Regions from separate parts of the Homo sapiens genome. Here region 2 is linked to region 1. Evidence: fine-mapped expression QTL. A gene starts in region 1. The other region holds a variant in brackets. All regions are shown on one strand. Distances are from middle to middle.

Region 1 (8,352 bases):
TTTACATTTCCTCCAGCAATGTATGAGAGTTCCTTTTTCCATACATTCTCAGCCAGATTTTTACCATTTCATTGGGAGCCAACTTAACTTGTATTACTGTAGATCTTGTGCATCTCTTCACACACTGGTTGGATATCAGGACAATCCTATTATTGAATTACTTATTCAACTCATTTTCTTATTCTCCAATTGGGATGCTTATCGTTTTCCTATTGGTCTGTATAAATATTTTGTAAAGCTAGATATTTTCTACTAGTCTCTTATTTTTCTATAATATTTGTCTATGTATTTCTTTAGCAGAAATATATAATGTATAGTGAAATACACATATTTTTGCTCTTTTTCTTTTTAATGTAGGGACACTGTTTAAGAAAGTTCCATTTTGCAAAAATATTTTCCTTCCTGTTACTGTGTCAACAGCGTGGTTTGACCTTTCAACTGTGGTTTTATCCATGTGAGGTCCATCTTTCCCTGTGTCTAATGTAGAAGCCCAAATCTATTATCCTCTATTTAGTAAGTATGTCTCACCAATATTATCTGATGAAACAGATCTGTTCCTTTTTGTTTATCTATGATGCTATCTTTGTCATATGTCAAGTTCCCAAATAAATACGCTGATTTTCTGAGCTGCTCCTTGGCCCAGCATTGAAATGTTTTTAATTCTGTGATTTGGACCATGTCAATCTAACATAGAAAATCAACAGTCCTTGATTTTTTGTTTGTTTCAAAATGAGCTTAGGTATTCTTGGACATTTGTTCTTCTAGGAAATTCTGGAAGGAGCTCATTGCATTCTTCAAAAAGTCCAGTTGGAATTATAATTATGATTTTATTGAATCTATTTGTAGAATAATTTAGGTAGATTGATGCATTTCCACTTTTTTTAAAAATCTGTGAACATAGTACATTTCTGTTTATCCTGATCTTCTTTTAATTTCTTTGATATAGATTTAAAATTTAGAGAACTTTCTGGAGACTTGATTTTATGATTCCTAGAAATGATTCCTACCTTCTAAGTTGATCATTCCAGTCAGTGAAAAGGCAAAAGGAATACCAGAAGTAAAATTTTTCCTGAGCACTATTGGCTTAGAGTTGTGCTGCATGCCAAGTGGTTAGGAGCTAGCACAGTAATTGAGAAAAAGGGCTCTGAGGTCAGAGCATCTGCGTTTGACTCCTGGCTCTACTCCTTACTAGTTTGGGCAACAAAGTAACCTCAGTTTCCTCATATGTAAAAATAATACAATAATATTGGCTAGCTCACAAATTTGTTGTGAGGATTAAAAGGCAGAATGAATGTAAAGTGCTTGGTACAATGCTTGGATTATGGCAAACATTCAAAAAATCTTAGCTACTAAAAACAGTGAGCATATCAAGCCACAAGTGTCAAGGCACTGACCTGTAGCCTTAATCATAGTAAGTACCTCTCCTTTTAGAAATCAAATCCAGGGCCGGGCACAGTGGCTCACGCCTGTAATCCCAGCACTTTGGGAGGCCGAGGCGGGCGGATCACCTGAGGTCAGGAGTTAACAACCATCCTGGCCAACATGGTGAAACCCCGTCTCTACTAAAAAAAATAAAAAATTAGCTGGGTGTGGTGGTGCACGCCTGTAATCCCAGCTACTCGGGAGGCTGAGGCACTTGAACCTGGGAATCACTTGAACCTGGAGGCGGAGGTTGCAGTGAGCCGAGATCATGCCACTGCACTCCAGCCTGGGCAATAGAACGAGACTCTGTCTCAAAAAAAAAAAAAAAAAGAAAGAAAGAAAAGAAAAGAAAAAAGAAATCAAACCCAGGCATATCACACTGCCTAAGGGGCTCACCTTCCACCTTATACAAAGAAAAGGGGCACTTGTCTCCATTAACTAATTGTTGATGCCAACAAATATTGTGTCACCCTTAAGCAGGTATTTACATTTATTTATTACCATAAGGGTATATTGTTATTTTATATTTTTCCTAGTCAGATGCCTGATGTTAGTATCTATTTAAAAGGAAAGGCATGGCCGGGAGTGGTGGCTCACGCCTGTAATCCCAGCACTTTGGGAGGCCGAGGCGGGCGGCTCATGAGGTCAAGAGATAGAGACCATCCTGGCCAACATGGTGAAACCTCGTCTCTACTAAAAATACATAAATTAGCTGGGCATGGTGGTGCATGCCTGTAATCTCAGCAATTCGGGAAGCTGAGGCAGGAGAATCCCTTGAACCCGGGAGGCAGAGTTTGCAGTGAGCTGAGATCGCGCCACTGCACTCCAGTCTGGCAACAGAGCGAGACTCCGTAAAAACAAGCAAACAAAAACAAGGAAAGGCCTAATTTATTTTCCTTGTCCTAGACTTCTGAGTCTAACTCAGATTTACAAAGGCTTAAATCAAGCAGAATGTACTGAAGTTCTCTGATGCTTCTTAGGAGTTATCAACATTTCCCAGCTCATGCTAATTTATATATCTACAATTCCTTATGATATACAAAATATATACATCTATTTACTTATCGTGTTCCCCAAGATGGATTTTTTTATGCGGATGTTTCATTACATGGATAAATGAACTAAATTTCAGAGAACTTAAGTAACTTGGCCAAGGTTAAGTGAATAGCAGTGTCAGAATTAAGCCCGGAATTCTGCTTTCCTCACTTTTAATATTATGAACTTTCCATTTTCTCTTCGGTGTTAAGGAGAAGCATTCAGTACAAATCTTCAGGACTCTAAACACTTAAAAAGGTCCTTCCTGAAATGAGAACTGACAGTGAATTCTAGGGTCAATCTGAAATGTGATTTTTAGAAAAAGATCCCAGAGAAATTCAGTTAACTGATAGGGACATGCCATCCCTAACTTGGGCCATATCCACCAAATCTATTTTTAAAGATTGACTTTTAGTATGCCAAACATTCTATACCACTGAGCTCTATTACACAGATTTCTAGTCTAATTGGTTTGTATGACAAGAGATTGTGATTTAACTCTCTCATATATTTGGAAGGAAAGCTTTTCCTCTCTTCCTTTTATGATTAAGCTGCAAATCTCACAAAACCAGCCAAGCCTGAAAATCCAGGAGCTTATTCTTGAACTCCATGGCTCAATAAAGATGCACATCCTAGAGTTATTTCTGAGACCCCTTACAAATATGTCTTGGGTTTGTTGAAGTTTGACACAAGAGGGCATTCAGCAGCATGCCAAAATGATATTGTTTGGATCCTTTATTATAATATATATTTTTTTTCTTTTTAAGTCAGACCACACAAAGAATCACTCAGCTAGAGCAAAAGCTCTTCAGCAGGTTTCAGAACTGCTTAGGAAATTGCCAGAGTGGACACATCCGTATGAGAGCCACAGTCACAGCAAATGCCACAGGGTGTGTTCGACGAGCATGATGAACACCTGCCTTTTCCCCAGATGCTCAGATGGCGGCGTGGCTCTGGGCTGTGTTTTCTGAAGTTCTAATGCAACCCTCCCAAGGCCTGATGAACCTGTTAACTGGATCAGGTTTTGGTGGGTCCTTTCATGAATGAGGCAGAGGCACCAGCTCTGTGAATTGGAGGTGGCTTCCTTGCTTCCAAAGTCAATATGCAGAGTGTCCTGATAGCATGGGAGCATCTCAAGCGTAGCCAGCAGAGTAGACGCTTCATTTTTCAGCCCTTGCTAGAAGGCAGAGAAAGAGGAAGTTTCTTCAGTGCTTAGCAGTCTGCTCCTCCCACTGATGAATTTTTAATCACACATTTTCCTCCCTTAAGTTAAAATTGATAAAATCTCTATACATGTGTCTTGTTTGACAATTGATAATAACATTGAAAAATAACAATATTGTTGACTATACAAGGCAATTTCTTCAAATTGAGTAATGATGTGATGTGTGTGGTTAACTGTCTCTACCCAGGAAGTGGTTTTATTTAAAAGTTTTGTGCTCACCCCACCCCCCGCCTTTTTCTTCCCCCAGTACTGAAATTAAGCAGCATCCAACACAGGCCTACTCTTACGACATGTGACTTTACTGTTTTCCGTTTTTGTTGAAAGAGTCATTAACAGTTAGGAGTTGATGGCAGTTTCAATAACAGGTCATTGCCGAGAAAAGGTAAGTTTTAACTTTATATTGTACATGAAATTTAAACTTGAACATGTTCGGCAGAGTTTCCTACATTTTGGTGTGAACATATAAACATTTCTACAAAATATGACGCTTTTACCTGTGATTAAAACATTGGCTGGTTTCCTTTGATGTAGAAAAGAATGTTCTTTTCATATTTGCAGCTGTCAAATTCCAATGTCTTTTACTAAAATGTTATAATAATAAGATGATTTGCTAAGATTTTGTACTAAAATGTTAAAGACAGAATAAGTTATAAAGTTTTAGTTTGAAGTGCATTTAAAAATAACTACTAGAAATAATGTGAGACTTTGCACCTTTAACCAACTGTTTTATAAAAATATGTATTGTTCAACATCCAGATAAGGAAAGAGAAAAGGGTATAACAATGAGAAATAGCTTGAATTTCAGTGTGAAAGATACTCACTTTAAAGCATTGTATTAATGTTAGCACTAAAAACCCTTAAAAAGGTTACTATGTAGCTAATTAAAAAGCAAGGAGCTTTTAAAATGTAAAGGAATACTGTCTATCATGACACTTGAAATTTTTTTTCTAAATTTCATTTAAGATATAGGGTGAAATGAGTGTAAGTTTCTAATTCATAAGCAAACTTTTATATTTAAAAAAGAAGTCACAGCTGATTTCATTGAAGGTTACTCTGAGAGGAGAGGCAAATTAGAGGTATACTTTTGTTATTTATGTAATTATATAATTTTCCTTCTTTGAAATATTCCAAAATAATAAACCTTAGAAATGAAAAGGATTTGTTAGTCCTAAACTGACATGTAATTTTCTTTTATATTGACTTCTTGCTTTTACAGAATGTCTTTGTGTGCTGTAACATATGTGCAGAAAACATCAAAATATTGCTAATCTCAGAGACAAATACCTAAAATAAATCTGACTGTAGATTTTTGAAAGAATTTTAATAACAGCCCAAGATATGATCCATTCTTCCCTAATATTATTTTTATTGTGCTGCTGGATGGGAGAAGTGATGGCCCCCACAACACCTATTTTTTGTGTTATTAAAAAATGGTTACAGGGTTGATAAGTGGCAACAATTTTCTTTTCTTTTATTGTCTTCTATTGAAAGACACACATAAATGTTTTTTGACATGGTCAATTTAGTAGGAAATTATTAGGCATAGTAGTACACTCCATTTTAAGACCTCTTCAATTGTCAATACTGAAGCTAGCTACTTGTTGACTATTAAAATGATCACAGAAAAATAGAGATTAGGACTTGGTGTTCAATACATTTTTTATTGTTAGCATGTAAGAAGACCCTGGTAATATATATTTGCTTTGATATTGTGATTAGATTTTCAATTTGTTGCATTTCCTCACAATGGAAAGCATTATTTAAATCTGTCTTCAATATCGTGGTTCTGAACCTCTGCATCTATAGAAGCTGTATAATTCTGATAATTTTGGTTGATATGTTATTACTTTCTTTCATTTTATTATAAAAGAATATCAAATGAATAAACACATGCAATACTTACACCTTAGCAAGAATGAATATGCAGATAAACATCTGGCATTGAGGAAAAGTCCATGAAAATTTTTTAAATTGTTTAATGCTTTTAAAAAAGAAATTCACTGTAAAAATGAGTGTTTCTTGCAGAAACTGTTAAATTAAAATACACATATTTTATGGAATATGTGTAAAATTAAGAATGAATTGAAGAGAGCTTGATATGAATTTAGAAAGATCAATGAGTAAAGATGATAGGTAAATTAAAATACCTTCAGAATTGTTTGTAAAGAGCAGTAAGGTACAAACCAAATTTTAAGACAGTTAATTGCAAATAAGTTACTATAGAATTCTATTACTTTATATGTTTTAAGTGGATGAGTCAGAAACAAGTTTTGATGAAATGAAAATAATACGGAAGATTTTATTTGGAAAGTCATATTAAAGCTAATTTGCTCAAAGAATGTCGTGCTTTTCCACTTAGGGCCAGCATTCAGTAAGATTCAGAAAGGAGAAACTCTTTCCTTGATATTCCTCCTGTTGCTCCTTTTTATTATTCTCTTCTGGAGCGGCCTGCTCTGCTCCTAATTTAGAGTCCCATAGACTTGGTACCTAGAAAGATAGACCCTTCCATTCACTGGCTCCTTCCATTCAACTGAACTTTTAAAATGTACTCATCCCATTTTCCAGCACTTAGGGAATCTAATAAAAATAATCCACGCTTATAGGAGAAGGCTACAGAGCTTTGACTTCCTAGCCAGGCCTCCCTTTCTCCCCCCAGTGGAATTTTAATATGTTTCCTCAGCAGACAGGGCCCAAAGGATTAGCTAAATGTTGGATCTCAAGTGAGGAGACTGATGCCATGGTAAATGGTTGGGGGAAGACTTTAGAGGGAGAGTGTTTTGTTAACCATTGGTCCTGCCTGTGGCATTTAAACACAGAATTTCTGGAAGTGTCTCATATGAAGGATCCATCCCAGTGATGTATCCATTTCTTTAAGATAGTCCTGAAGAAATAAACACCTTTCTTGCAGCAGGTAAAAAAAAAAAAATATTGCACTACATTTTCAGGCAATTTTGATATTCCCATACACTTAGAAATTATTTAACATAATTAGTTTTTAATAGATGTATTTTAAAAGTCATTGAACACTCTGAATTTAATTCTTTGGATACTAAAAGCATATTTTTTACACTGTACAATAAATGCTACATAATTAGACTTTAAAATGCCCTTGTAAGTATTCTAAATTTGAGCTTAGAGTGTGCAAAACTTCTTTGTTGGCAAACGATAGAAAATGAGTTCAAACTAGCCTAGGCAAAAGAGATATTCTTTTATGTGTGAAAAGTCTAAGGATAGCAAAGTCAGGAATGGCTGGATCCAGGAGCTCACACAGGATTATCAGGAGTAGGTCTCATTTTTTTCATTCCTCAGCTCTTCTTTTCACTATGCTGTAAGCAGTCTCTAGTGGAAGCTCTCACGAAATTGTCAAGCTCCTACTGAGTTGATCCTTTCAGCAAACTGTGGGGAAAGAATGCTTTTCCCCAGTCACCACAGCAAAGTGTCAGATTTAGATCTGATGGGACTGAATTGGATCACATGACCATAGCTGAACAATTACTGAACTTGGGTGCAGACAGCATGCGTGACCATGCCTAGCTCACAGGCCCACTCCTGCACTGGGGGCAGCTACAGCTGCAGCACTTGGGCTCTCTGCTAAAAAGAGGGGTCTCCTGATGTAGAAATTAAAATGCTTTCCCCAGAAGAAAGGACAAAAGCCTCAAAATTCTACTACGGAGTCACGTATGGTCACATTTTAAACAGTCATTATTTCCCAACTTCTTCAAATTCCATAATTGTACAAAAATACAGTTTTAATTGAAAGGCGGATCTGATTGAAACATGAGTTTGAATTAAACTAAATTTTAAAATATTTTTCAACAGCTACTGTATGTTTGACAACTCCTCACAACATTTGCCTTCTAAAAGCTTATAATCCAGAGTGACTATTATTTTAATAATTATGATGCAAATACAATTTGTCAAGTACCATAAGAAGATACAGAGAATGCTCTATTAGAGTTCAGAAATTCATCCAGCATTTTTGCATTCCTGTTATTTGCCGAGCCATAAACTAGAGAATTTTGTAAGTGTTGTATCATCTGATCACATACTTTCAGGGAGTTCTGGACAGTTTTGGAGGAAAGTTTTGTGGTAGTTTTCAGGGAAATCTAGCACTGGGAAGATGAGAAACATTGCAAGGGACAGGAAGGAAATATGTCAAGGCACAAAAACACGGCGTGTCAGAGAATTCCAAAGTAGTGTGAATTCTCCAGTTTTGTTAGACAGAAGTATAGTAATAAGAGGTAGGCCAGAAAGATAGTGTGAGATCATAAATAGAGTAGACCTGGATATAAGTAACAGCAGGGTTTTTGAGCAGGGGAGATACGTAATTGGATGTCCACACTTTTACATCTTGATGGGTTGTCTGTCTAGGGTCAGGATGTATTTGTTTCTTCCATTTATCTCACTGTGAAGTGACATTTTCTTTGCAGAAGAGTTTGAAGTCAGTGGAGATATTTCTGTAAGGACAGGCACTGACTTACCTGTTCAGGTGCCTGAGGTTCTTATTCAAGTTATGGTTATAACAATCTTTTTTTTCATTTGATGAAGGCCTTTTGTTTGTTTTGTTTGCTTTTAATTTAAGAATAGATGATATAGTGAGATGGTTCAAAATCAATATAAAACCAAAACACAATGTTTTTAGATAAGCTATTTCTTATATTTTTATTTCT
Region 2 (8,352 bases), 120 kb after region 1:
ACCTCATACAGTTGTGAATGTAAGATTTCACAGAATCATTTGGTTAATATTTATTGCACACTTATTTTGTGTCCATGTGTTAGCCACAGTGCTGGGCCCTAGAACTCCAGAGGCAAGGAAAATACGGAATCTTCCTCATTTTAGCCTTAGACTTCTGTATAATTGCCCACAAACTCTCTATGATACAGAGGTTATACACTAAACGAATTATCAATAATTGTTGTACGTAGGTAAGTACCTGGAACATAAAAAGTGCTTCTTAAAATAATTATACCTTTTTAACCCCCTGACTTGACTGTATGGGAAAAATAAGCCATTTTGTTACGTACTCTTAATGATTATTTTCGTTGGTTCTGAGTATCCCCTAATGTAATTAAATCTATAAGAAGCATGTTGTTGTTAATTTTTCTACATCATAAATCACTTGACAAAGACTATCATTATCATGCTTTGAAATCTAAAATAGTGATCACCTGGGTGGCAGAGCGTGGGTGAAACAATAAAAACTTTTCACTGATCAAAATCTCTTTAAGGAGCATGGCTCATTTTGATGGGTTTCTCCTGAGGTTACTAAATAACAACAACAAAAAAGGTAGATATGCTATCAAATTCTATCCTGCCGGCTGGGTTTATCCTGTAGGAAAGTTATACAATGTTTCAAAAAAAAATTCAGTTGCCAGAAAAAAGTCTCATAATTTACCATAAAAAAACAAATTTCTGGCTTCTGAAAAAGCCTATTTATGTTGAACTTATAGAATTGGATATAATGGCTAAGAGGCAACAAACATGGACAGAATATGTTTTTAAAACATATTTACCATTCTTTCATAATTTCATGTTTTATCCTAATGTTCATAATGTTAAAAACATTGGCTAAAAATATAATAAGCTTCATATACTAAAATTCTGAAGTATTTTATGGACAATGACTTGAGAAAAGTATGGAATCTACAGAGAAACCTAGAAAATTTATCTGTGGAGAAACTTCTTGAAAAAATAGTAAAGAAATTCTCAACTGGTAAACTTTTTAAAAAATAATTGGCGGTATGGAGGTATGCCAATGTAAAGTTGTATAAGTATGATTAACTTGAATCAAGTGAAAATATGAAAAGACAAATGTGGGTGATATTCCTATTGATTATTGTGAATTATTGAAATAAAAAACATCTTTTAAGTAATACCCACATTGTAATTGTGTAATAGGAAGCACACATTTTAATCCTTTTGGTCTAAGTTAAATTTACCAAATGAAATTATATTTGTGTGTATAGTCTTAAAGTCTGAAAAGTGAATTTCTAAAAGGCATAGTTGACACTTAATAAATATGTATTGAATTTGCTAACATGTGAAACACAAACCTGAAAGGGGAATTGGAGATTAATCCACCTGCTCAATTTTCTAGATGATGTAGTCAGATTCTAAGCAACTCTACTATAGTCGCAAAACTAAAACTCTGTAACAGTTTTTTGCATTGCACTATGATTTATCAATTTTTTCTTTTACTGTTAGGTCTAAAAGTAATATAACTTAACATGCTTTTATGTTACTTTAGACATTGAAGAGCAATATTCCATATTACTAAATAGCAGATTTTAAAACTTTCATTATTCTTAAATTACTAAAGAATACCATCTCAAAATATCAGTATTCTAGATATTAATTTTTCCTATGGTTTATAGTTAATTAAATAATTTTAAAAATAAGTCTGTAATTTTAGACATTGAAAAAAATTAGGTCCCAAATGAAAATTCCTACAAATTAGGTTTCCCCTGGGGAAAACAAAAAAGGCATTATATCATAAATATGTATAGCTGCTAACTCAATAAACTCCTATTTCTCTGACATCTATCTACAGTGTTGCATCCTCTTATTCTTACTTCATTTTTGTGATTACAGAAAACTGGGCACAAACCAGAAAGTGTGGATTTGTGTGGAGCACACATTGAATGGGCCAAGGAAAAATCGAGCAGAAAGAATGTCTTTCAGGTAAGAATGTTACATATATTCAATTTATTCCTATTCTCTCTAAATCTGAGCTCTCTTGGGTAACTAAAATAAGACTACCTTCTTGTGATGTGCTCATGTACATGAACTCGTTGTCTGAAGGTCATGAAAGGCGACTCCTCTTCCCAGTTGAATCTTTGGTTTTGTTGCTTTTTTTCTGGCGACTGGTTGCTATCTAAACACAAAATGTATGTTGCACGTTGATTAATATAAACACACAAAAGTCATTGAAGTTTGCAGTATATGCGATAGATGTCTGGAGTTCAAACATGGGATGTTTGACTTAAGTAGATTTGATCTAGAATTTTCAGATGCACACAAACTAAGACTCACCAAGTATAAGCTATTTACATTCATTGACACTCTTGCCTTCTAGTCATTAATTACATTTACCAGTATAACTTACAAGAATGGAGAGGGCTGAACAGCTATAAAAAATAGATTCTTTCATATTGCTTACTTTAGTTTTTTGAAAAAAAAAGTTGATTAATAATTGCAATCATATTCGATTGAATGGCAAGAACCAGATGAAATCCTTGAGAGAGATAAAATTGGAAAATGTAATTTCACACGTTACCAAAATCACCTAATTGCGTGATTTATCTGGTAATTAATAATTTGAGATCTTGGAGTTTGATTTTTGTTCTATTTTATATGAAATTTAATTTTATATTTCCAAAGTAACCAGTAATTAGATATATTTTAGAATTTATATAATTTAGTAGAAGAGAGATAGAGTATAATAATTATTTTTTAAATTAAATGTCTTCTGAGAGCATGTTGGCCCTTGAATAAAAGTCAATTCTTCTACTCTTAAATGCTTTGCTGAAATTAATATTGGGTCCTATGGAAGCATAGGTAGGTGACATTTTCTACCGACACTCTCACTGAGGGGAAGAAGCTGGTTTCCAGTTCGGTTTGTATTTTCCAGATGCTATTCAGGTATATCCAAATAATTTGGGTCCATAAAATATTTTAACACATTCTAGAATAAATTACTTTTCTGGTTCTAGTTTTATTTTGCTTAGGTATAGAGATTTTTTATCAAACAAGAAAGTGAGAGAATATATGCAATTATTATTTGTCAATTAAAAATAAAATTTAAAAAGGAAGGAAGGAAATAAAAGGGAGAGAGAAAAGATAGAAGAAAACCAAACACGCTTGTCCTGAAATCAATGCTCTAAAGCTGAAAGTGACTAAAATGTGGCTTTACAGAATCAAGAAGGAGAAATAAACTTTCTTTCAAAGGGAGGAACTATAGATCAGTGACTTCCCCTTTCCCCCAATTTCTTACTCTTATTATTCTACCATAAATAACAGTTTAGAGGTTATAATTCTAGCCTTATGACAACTTAGATGATCAACATAAGAAGCTCTGAAGTAGACCGGGAAAGCTCAGTGGTAGAGCCTTATTATGTACTGTGAATTTAGCATCCTAATCACCAAAATTGTAAAAGATGTTGAAATTTGTCATAGACATTATTCTTGGACAATAGCAATTCTTTGGAGATGGGCTAAGCCAGCCTTTTTCAGTTTCTTCTGTTAATCTTATGAAGAGTTAAATTAGTTCACAAATGAGGATGACAGTCAGCTATATTTGATGCATACAGGGCTGAAAATATTGATGAAAAAATTATGTATATTTTTATATAACTATGAACATTATATGCACAGATAGACATTTCAGCCACCTATATTGACAGTGTGTATCATCCCAATCTTTTCAGGATATGACTAATCACCTCCTGTTGCAATTTTCTATTTGATTTTTATATTTTTGAATGTAGATCCTTCCAAAGATATTAAAAACTATTCTCACTTTTGGTAGCTTTCTGAAGGTGAAAATTTTGCCAGCTAGTTTTGTTTGTAATGTAATTGAACAGTTCATGGGGCCTCAGTCTTCTTACAGACGCTTTATTTTTTTTTAGTCTTGTACTTTTAGAGAAACAAGAGGTGATCATAAGGATATTGTGAATAACAAACCAAAAGAAAAGATTCAAGTTTCATGTTCTGTTTCATTCTTTTTGAGTGAATCCCTTGGTTTCCTTGTCGTGCTGAAATCTTTTCATCACCTAAATGCATGAGTTTTGGTAAAACTGACTAATACATATCCATAGATACAGACTATGAGAGTAAGCCTTTTGAGAGGAACAATATAAATAGCTTCTATAGTTCTGTTAACAAAAAAGCGTCGGGAAGGATTTGCCAGAGAGCTAAATCTAGATGACTTGCATCAATATTTGATTAGATACATTAGCTGGTCGAACTCTCAAATGATCAGAATAAACATGATTATGTCTTAAAAACATGGTATTAAGGCATTGTTGGACGTTGGAGTGTATGTGTGCAATGGTTTCATTACCTGCAGAATAATGAAGTGTTTCTTCCTGACTGAAAAAGACCATCATAGCTTCAGCTGATGTGCTACATTGGAAATAGCTTTAGAATTCCAAGTTTGAATTAGGCTTGGTGTTCAATCTCAGTCTATGAATTATAGATTACAGATAGCAAATGACTATTGAGATTTTTGGTTCAAGGAAAATCAAAGAAGAGCAAAATTAGAAATATTTTAAAATTTGAAATCTGTCTTTAAAAAGTTTGATGGATTAGCAATTGTATGCCATGTAATTACAATGTCTGCAGAGAAGTTGAACTTAAAATGAATAGGAAAACAAACAAAAAATTGTATGTGCCTGAGAAATGTTGCAAGTCTCAGAAGCACACATTTGTGACAACCAAAAATGGACAGATTTCATTTATTTCATTTGTTCATATATGCTGTTTGGATGTTTGAGTTGTTTTCTCTTTGTACTGAAATCCAAATTTTCCTTCCTAGTTGAAATCCTATCAAACTGTTGACATGGACTGAATCTTATTTGATTGCTATGTGGAAACATAACAATGACAACATTAATTATTAAGTTTTGGTATTCAACAACTTTCAGTAAATCAGAATGATACTTGCTAAGTTTAAGAATATCTGCATATTTTATAACAGCACACTCTTTGGCCTAATTGGTACTTCTTAACAATAAATAATAAAAGAATTCTATAATAAAGTA[T/A]GTATTAGATGTTATAATTTATATTAAAATATATACATGAATATACATGTATAAAATATATATACTTATATACATAAAATATATATGCAAATATACATATGTATATATACTCTACCTGTGTGTATACACACCTAATAGCTTGACCTTAGGAAATAGAGTAAGCACTTCCACACACAAACACAGAAAGATAGTACACATTTATAAAAGATCATACAAATTCTAAGTTAAAGTGGTAAATGTCCATTGCTGCTAACTTTTGTTTAATTCTGCATTTATGTTCATTGTCAAGGACTGTCACAAGTTTGATGTAGTTCGAGAAACCTTTAGCAACTCAGCTATAACGAGCTGGGTACGCGTTTTCTTAGTTAACAGCAACACTAGGTCTTCATCAGGGATAGAGTGAATAAAAAGATTTATGTTCAAACCACATGTTTTAAACATTCCTGCTAAGTGCTAGTTTGCTCTTTGGTGTTTAGCCTGAAATTTAAAGCACTAAGGATTAAAAGGATTACAACATAATCTTAAATAATCCTAAATGTCATTTACAGAGAGATAGTTGTAATAACTAAATAAAACCATGTGAAAGGATGGCAGCATTGTCAGGCAGCCTCCCTCACACAAGCGGGGCTACTGTCACCTTCTGTTTCCTGGCTGGGCATGTTAGGCAGTTACAGTCTTTCAATAAGAAGTTCAACTGAGAAAATGGCTGCAAAATAATTTAGAACAAGTTTGTTTAAAAAAAAAAAAAACTCTTATATCTTGTTTCTAAGTTGAAGGAAATTTTTCAGTTAGGTTTTGTCTTTTCCTTTGAACACAAACCTTTCTGAGTTAAATATTTTGGAAAGCCTAGGGAAAGGAAGTTCGTGACATGGCTATCAAATAGACAACTGATGTATCTCTAAAAAATTCCCCAATGTCCAAGGAGATACCCCCTTATTAAATATGTGAGAGTCTCAGAGCACTATAATTATTTCCGTGTCATTAAATTTAGTACTTAAATATCCTTTACTTAAATATTCTGTCATGCAAATTAGTCTTGTCTCCCCAAAGAAAATACATAGAAACTATATCCCATACTGTCTTCTACTTATTAAGCCAGAAGACTGAACACTTTTTAGCTGAATAATTGTTACTGCTAAGGGTACAGTTGCATTCCTTTAATAAAACAAAACAAATTCACTCCTATTAAAAAAAAAAAAGTTATTTGTATCCACAATATAGGCCCTGTACTCCAAAATTTCCAGGGTGTAAAATAGGAAGTAAAGATGAAGAAGATAACTGTTTCCTGGGTCTTTTTCATTACAGGTTATAAGACAGCATTATTTATTTAAGATAATTAAATCATTTTTACTCTAAAAATTTACCTTTTCTTAGAGCCAGACAGTGACTGGCCTCAGTTTTCCTGAGCTTCCTTTAAAATAAAGTTTTTAAAAACATACATTGGGCTCTTCTATAGATTTCATGCTTTCAGTAGGATATTTCTGCCAATTAATAAATCATGGCTGATTAGGAATATGTCAATTACCTGTTTGCTGCTTGAAAGGCAGAAAAAATTAAATGACTAAAGAAGAGGAAAGTCTGTTATCCTCCCCCCGCCACCACCAATTTGTAACCTCAACAAATATCATGGTCACATTTCCTGGATTTGAGATTATTTTTCAAGATTCTTTTTCAATATATTAAAAAATAGATCTCGGGGGACAGATTCTGTCCCTAAAAGTAAACCTCGGAATAGATTTATTATTTATATTACTTCTCTGACTTTGGATGGAGTCTTCTGACTACAATGTATATTAAACTTTTTTATGTAATATTCTCCATGGATATGCATTACATTTAAACATAATTTGATCTTTCTGATCTGAATATGTCTTATCTTAAAATGTTTAAGTACTACTTAAGTTTATTAATGTGAAGATAATTTAATAACATCTTAAAAAAACATAATTTTAAGCCAAAAGGAAAACTACTGGTATTGTGCTTTTATCCATTTCCTTGTGTTACAAGTGGTGGTTTAAAATAAATCCGAGCTTTTACCAATTTTCTTTCATTTTTCAGTGCTTGTAGTTAGACTAAATGCAAAAGGATGATTCTTCACATTCATACATGCATTAGATTTCCAGTAAAGCTGGTTTCACTTTAGAGAATTAAAGTATCTTAAAAGACACGGCATTAAAAATAGACCAGAGTAAGAGAAACATTCACGTCTAACACAGTTGTTTTTTGCCCTACAGCTTGTCCCCAATCATTTCATCTACCTATTAGATATTCATCCAACATTCAGGAGGTGCAGTGGAGAGAACACATGGGTCTGGGGATGTGTGTTCCAATTTGGGCTATGTCAGTTGTAACTTTATGCAGAACTCACAGCAGGATCCTCCTCCAACTTTGTCACACCAAGGAAATAAGAGATGACAGTCCTCACCTCACCTGCCCATCTGTGTTAATACTAAAATGAAGCAATCCTGTATGTTTGTTTGAGAGCAACTACAAAGAAGTGATTTTAATACAAATACAGCAGACTTTCATTATTCATCTACTAACCACATCATCTCACAATGTTTTGAGGGAAATTCCAGATATGAATTTTAGAAGAATAGGGTTGAGAGAGGTAAATATCTGTGAAATGTAACTCAAAATTTCTGCTCTACTTCTGGTCTTTCTGTTGCCTTCTGAACTTAATAGACTGATATTTAATACACAACATGAAAATCTTTTTATTGTGTGACTAAGAATATAGATCCTTAATCTTATTTTTAATGTGCTATTCTTAGTGGCATTAATGTAATATCCAATTAATTAATCAATGACATATTCAAATTAATACTTAAAAGCATATCACCTTGAAAGCCCTACCAAGCTGTTAATAGAAACTTGCAAAAGGTAACATAGAAACAAGTGTAGCAACTATGCCCCAAGTGAAAGAGGGACAATAGTGACACTTATTACTCCCCTACTGAGGTATCAGTACAATACTGTTTTTCTGATTGAAGGGAAAGAGATATGATTATTTGTATGATGTTTAGCTTCACTTTTGTTGATGCGGTCACACAGATTTTGCACAGAGGGAGGCATAAAATTTTATAATTAGAGATTTGATTTAAGAATATGAATGTCAGGGGTATATAAAGATTGAGTGCAAATGATAGAATCTGGGGACAGGAAATAAAATTGATTGTAAGAATCTAGATGAGATCAAGAGAGCATGTTAGCTTTGACTGATGAAAGGAGAAACAGAAACAAGAAGATGGATGGAAAGTACATTCTGCAAATGAAGAACATGCCT

The links.
Region 2: its variant is fine-mapped to the expression of ARHGAP15 in whole blood (TOPMed, PIP 0.93).

What each region holds. Positions count from the first base shown.
Region 1 is chr2:143,125,403-143,133,754 of GRCh38, forward strand. It overlaps ARHGAP15 (Rho GTPase activating protein 15), which reads left to right and starts at 4,017. Exons shown (of 14, transcript NM_018460.4): 1 at 4,017-4,064.
Region 2 is chr2:143,248,615-143,256,966 of GRCh38, forward strand. ARHGAP15 (Rho GTPase activating protein 15) reads left to right here. Exons shown (of 14, transcript NM_018460.4): 6 at 1,897-1,986. Among named protein-coding and RNA genes, the nearest start is that of ARHGAP15, 120 kb to the left of the region's middle. The variant T/A (reference allele first, on the strand shown) is at 5,067.